2 separate regions of the Homo sapiens genome follow, and region 1 is linked to region 2. Evidence: fine-mapped expression QTL. A gene starts in region 2. The other region holds a variant in brackets. All regions are shown on one strand. Distances are between the middles of the regions.

Region 1 (2,966 bases), 22 kb after region 2:
AGCCCGCCACTGTCCTGCCACCGCAGGCAGCCCCTGTCTGGCCCAAGCACTGACCCACGCGGACTCTGGGAAGCAGACATCCTGGGCTGCTGGCCTCACATTTCCACTGGCAGTGGAGCCTTTCCCTGCTCCACAAATGGCCAGGTCCCCCCAGGGGAAGGCTTCCGGCTGTTATCGGCTGCCTCAGGGGGCGAGTACCTTGGAGGGCCTGCTTCAAGGAGGGTGCCCCCTGGAGGGCACACACCAGCCTAGTGCTTACCTTGGCTCCTGCCTGTACCAGCTCCATGACTCTGCTCGGGTGAACAGCCTTGGCTCTCAGACAGCCATTCTAACACTGCCAGTGCAGAGGGGCCTCAGACGCTGGAGTGTAGCAGTGGCTGCACCTGCACAGGGATTAGCTGCCAGCAGCCACCCTGCTGGCGTCCCAGCACACACCTCCTCACTCCCTGCATTGGAGGGAGTGTCATTTTAAGGGACATTTTTATGACTTTTATGTGTATGTTTATGTAGAAATTTGGAAAATACAGAAAACTGTAAAGAAAATAAAAGCCCTTTATATCAACGTCAAGAGATAAGCCCTGTTGACGTTTTGGTGTACAACTTGCCGGACTTCTTCTCAGCACATGTGTATTTTAAATGGGATCACACCATATTTACAGTCATACATCCTTTTATCACTTCATACAACTAGATCTGTTTTTCTGATATTTAAATGCCAGACTTCGAACTTGGCCAATAGAAGTTGGTCCATTTGCTGGGGCCAGGGGCTCCCCAGCCACCCGGGCCCCTCTGTCAAACCCTCAGCCCTGAGTCTCTTCTGGGCTTTGCTGATGTCTTCACCCTAGCTAGGTCCATCTCCCAATATCTGTCCCCCTTAGTCCACAGCTTTTGCCCCCCAATCCAGGTGCCGTGCGTGTCTCTGTGTGTCCGTGTCTGTGTGTGTGTTGTACACAGGCTTGGCTGTTACAGGCCCATTCTGTAAGGCAGGATGTGGGGCTGAGGTATTTTAGGATTGAAAGAGGGTGGAAGTTTATGATTACATAGGACAATGGAATTTATAAACATGTCCTCTAAATGGTTCC[G/A]AGTCATCTACCAATGAAGACTTCTTGAATTATCCCCCCTTTTCCCAGCCTGTTTTGAAAGCTCTTTGTTTACCAGACAAAGGTCATCATCATATGACCCCCTTTGCCTTTTTTTTTTTTTTAAGATGGAGTCTCGCTCTTGTTGCCCAGGCTAGAGTGCAGTGGTGTGATCTCGGCTCACTGTAACCTCCACCTCCTGGCTTTCAAGCGATTCTCCTGCCTCAGCCTTCCGAGTAGCTGGGATTACAGGCGCCCACCACCATGCCTGGCTAAATTTTTGTATTTTTAGTAGAGATGGGGTTTAATCATGTTGGCCAGGCTGGTCTCGAATTCCTGACCTCAGGTGATCCACCCACCTCGGCCTCCCAAAGTGCTGGAATTACAGGCATGAGCCACCATGCCTGGCCCCCGTTTCCTATTTTTATGAACCACAGCGGTTCATGCTGCCTGTCAGAGCTTCTGGGCCGCGTGAGGTCACCAGCTTTCAACACGCAAAGGACTGCACTGCAGCTGGGGGAAGAGAAACTCCACACTGCATTGGCCTGGCCAGCCTTACCCTCTGGGCTTTTGAAATAGTATCTTTTTTCTGTTTGTTTTCAAACAGAGTCTCGCTCTGTCGCCCAGGCTGGAGTGCTGGAGTGCAGTGGCCTGATCTCGGCTCACTGCAACCTCCACCTCCCAAGTTCAAGCGATTCTCCTGCCTCAGCCTCCCGAGTAGTTGGGCTACTACTTCAGGCGCACGCCGCCATGCCCAGCTAATTTCTTTTGTATTTTAGTAGAGATGGGGTTTCACCATGTTGCCCAGGCTGGTCTTGAACTCCTGAGCTCAGGCAATCCGCCCGCCTCAGCCTCTCAAAGTGCTAGGATTACAGGCATGAGCCACCGCGCCCGGCCCAATAGTATCATTCTTTAGATGCCTGCCTCTGCCTCCTTGGGTGAGTGGGGAGAGGCAGGGGATACCTGGAAGGTAGCAGAGGAAGAGGAGGCGGTAACAGCAGGAAGAGGGGCCACCCCAGTGTTTTCTACTGGTGGCCCTGAAGGCTGAGCCCATCCCCGTGCCATGCCTGCCAATGCCGCTCTTGGGAGACCAGCTCTCACCTACGCTAGCCACAGGTGGTGGCTGCCAGACAGTTTCTCTGATCCCCACAGCCCTCCCCACCCTCTACCTTCCTCTGTCTGCCTAACCCCCTTCCCACCCACCCTGGCTTTTAACATAAGTGAAAAAGTGGCTAACCCCACCTCTGCACTTATCACCTGTGTGACCTTGGGCAGTTTGTTTTTGCAGTCTGCATTTTCTTTTCTTTTCTTTTTTTTTTTTTTTTTTTGAGATGGAGTCTCGCTCTGTCACCCAGGCTGGAGTGCAGTGGCGTGATCTCGGCTCACCGCAAGCTTGGCCTCCTGGGTTCACGCCATTCTCCTGCCTCAGCCTCCCGAGTAGCTGGGACTACAGGCGCCAGCCACCACGCCCGGTTAATTTTTTGTATTTTTAGTAGAGACAGGGTTTCACCGTGTTAGCCAGGATGGTCTCAATCTCCTGACCTCGTGATTTGCCTGCCTCGGCCTCCCAGAGTGCTGGGATTACAGGCGTGAGCCACCGCGCCCAGCCTGCATTTTCTTTCTTACGGTTCTTATCAACCCTCTCAGCGTTGCCATGAAGATGAAATGAGATGATGTACAAAGTCCTAGTAGAGTGTCTTCTCTTTATAATGAATGCATCGTCTCCTGAGAAAGCTAGTTTCATAACAACCCCAGATCAGCCAAGTCCAGATCAGCCCTCTCACTTGAGACAGGAAGAGGACTCGGGGCAACTGGGTGCCGGAGCTGGACTGAAAACTCCCATCTCCCAGCTGCCTTCCAGGAACTTCCCCACCACACGTCCTTGCA
Region 2 (2,500 bases):
ACCTCCCACTGCGCCGCCGGGCCTCTGCCAGGGTCAAGGGGCTTCCCCCCTCTGGCAGCAGACGCCATGGTGCCGAGGTGGCCTCCACAACCGCCCTGTGCGCCAATAGGACAAGACTGTCCTCCCTCCCCCACACTTGTCACTTTGAGGGACACGTGGATGAGACAGGAAAACACAGGGGAGTGTGGAGACCTGAGGTGACTTGGAGCAAGCCTCTCAACCTGAGCGGCAATTTCTTCATCTGTAAAATGAGGGGGTTGTTCTCATCTCTGAGGCTTTGTGTCGCTCTCAAAGCCTGCTAGCCTCGGGTTCTAGGACTCTGTTGGGATCGTGTGTGATGTTTTCTGCTGAGCGACTGGCAGCCTGTGTCCTCGGGGGGAAAGAGGGCAGGCGCTCCAAAGCTCCTGCGCTCTGTGGCTCCCCCTCCCTCGCAGCCCCAAGCCCCAGGTGTGCCGGCCGCCCTGAGCCCCTCCAGCACCTCCCGGAGGCGCCTGCAAGACACCTAAGGTCCCCGCCTCCCTCCTCTCCCCCCCGCCACACCCCTACCCCCGGCAGGCGACGTCCCCGCCCCTCGACCATGGCCTGGTGAAGAAGCCGGCCAGGCCCGATCAGCCCCATCCCCGCCGCACGAGCGGCGCCTGCGGACAGCTCCTGGGGCCCCGGCCTTGTCACTCCGGAGGCGGGAGGCTCCGGGGGGTCGGGCTGGGAAGATCGAGCCGGAGGCCGCTAGGCTCCCAGGCCCCGGCCGAGGCTGCGCGGCCGCACGGTGGGCAGGCTCGGGTGTTCCGGCAAACTGCCGGGTCCCCATCTTCTAAAGAGAGGAGGCCCTTTCTCCAGCTTCCTCTGCGGGAGCCCGACCCAGCCCCATCCCGCCACCCCCGGGCTGCACCTCGGCCCCTCCCCGGCCCGCGCCCCTGCCCGGGGCGGGCCAGGAACCTCGGCCCGCGCCGCTGGGGACTCTGGAGCGGAGGAGGAAGCGCGGCGGGGCGGGGGCGGGGGTGTGTCGGGTTTTATAACCCGCAGGGCGGCCGCGGCGCAGGAGAAGGGGCAGAGCCGAGCACCGCGCACCGCGTCATGGGGGCCGCCTCGGGCCGCCGGGGGCCGGGGCTGCTGCTGCCGCTGCCGCTGCTGTTGCTGCTGCCGCCGCAGCCCGCCCTGGCGTTGGACCCCGGGCTGCAGCCCGGCAACTTTTCTGCTGACGAGGCCGGGGCGCAGCTCTTCGCGCAGAGCTACAACTCCAGCGCCGAACAGGTGCTGTTCCAGAGCGTGGCCGCCAGCTGGGCGCACGACACCAACATCACCGCGGAGAATGCAAGGCGCCAGGTGGGCGCCCGGGCCCGGGCGGGGGCGGGGCGGGGCCGCGGCGGCCAATCACAGCACGCGGCCGGCTTGTGGGGCGGGCAGGCTGGCGCCCCCGACCCGAACCCCACCCCGACCCCGGACCCTCGCCCCGACAGTCAGCCGCGGGGCCCGAGCGCCGGGCTGCGCGCACGGCCTGCGCTCCCAGCATGCACGAGTTGGATGGATGAGGGTGGCTGCTCCCAGGCCGCGCCCGCCTTCGCCGAAGGTGCTGGGCTTGGCTCTGGGGCCCCCGCGCTCTCGGGCAGCTGCCTTCTCACCTCCGGACGCTGTCGCTGTCACCGTCACCGCACTGCACTGTCCATCCACCCTCCACTCGCCCGGCCTCTTTTCTGGTCCCAATTTCTGCTCCACCATTCCCATGAGGCAGATTCCCTCCAGAAGGAGGAAGCGCGGCTTCCGCAAACTAAGGTCTCCCGCAGGGATCTCCCCAGGGCCCGGGCTCTGGAAGCCCTTGGCCTTCCTCCCCTCCCCCAGCACCGTGGCTTCTCCTTTATGGCCTGCATCTAAGCAGGGTCCTACACCCTCCCTGCCCTCCTGGTGCCCAATAGGAGGAAGCAGCCCTGCTCAGCCAGGAGTTTGCGGAGGCCTGGGGCCAGAAGGCCAAGGAGCTGTATGAACCGATCTGGCAGAACTTCACGGACCCGCAGCTGCGCAGGATCATCGGAGCTGTGCGCACCCTGGGCTCTGCCAACCTGCCCCTGGCTAAGCGGCAGCAGGTGGGCTGAGGGCTGAGGCAGAGCTCGGGGGCGGCCTCCTAGTGCCCCATCGTGGGGGTCGGGGGAGAGCAGCCCATCAGGGAGGGAGGAACCCTGGGATCCACATGGGCCCTGACAGAAGGGAAAGCCCAGGTAAGCACAGAATGGCTTTCTGAGCATTGATTTTTCTTGGAGATGGGGTGGGGAGTTACTTTCTGTTAAAGGAAGCATTCTGGAGTAGGAAGCCAAATTCAAATACACTTCTCCCTAGGCTGGTTTATGAGCTTCTTTGGAAGAGTTGAGAAGGGCTGGGCGTGGTGGCTCAAGCCTGTAATCCCAGCACTTTGGGAGGCTGAGGTGGGCGCATCGCTTGAGCCCAGGAGTTCAAGACCAGCCTGGCCAACATGGCAAAACCTCGTCTCTACAAAAAAAAAATAGCTGGG

Evidence for each region. PIP is the estimated chance that this variant, and not a neighbour inherited with it, causes the effect.
Region 1: its variant is fine-mapped to the expression of ACE in lung (TOPMed, PIP above 0.99).

What each region holds. Positions count from the first base shown.
Region 1 is chr17:63,497,806-63,500,771 of GRCh38, forward strand. It overlaps ACE (angiotensin I converting enzyme), which reads left to right. Exons shown (of 25, transcript NM_000789.4): 25 at 1-568. Among named protein-coding and RNA genes, the nearest start is that of ACE, 22 kb to the left of the region's middle. The variant G/A (reference allele first, on the strand shown) is at 1,083.
Region 2 is chr17:63,476,021-63,478,520 of GRCh38, forward strand. It overlaps ACE (angiotensin I converting enzyme), which reads left to right and starts at 1,041. Exons shown (of 25, transcript NM_000789.4): 1 at 1,041-1,323; 2 at 1,911-2,078. The coding sequence starts at 1,075. RefSeq lists silencers at 1,301-1,390, 1,491-1,550.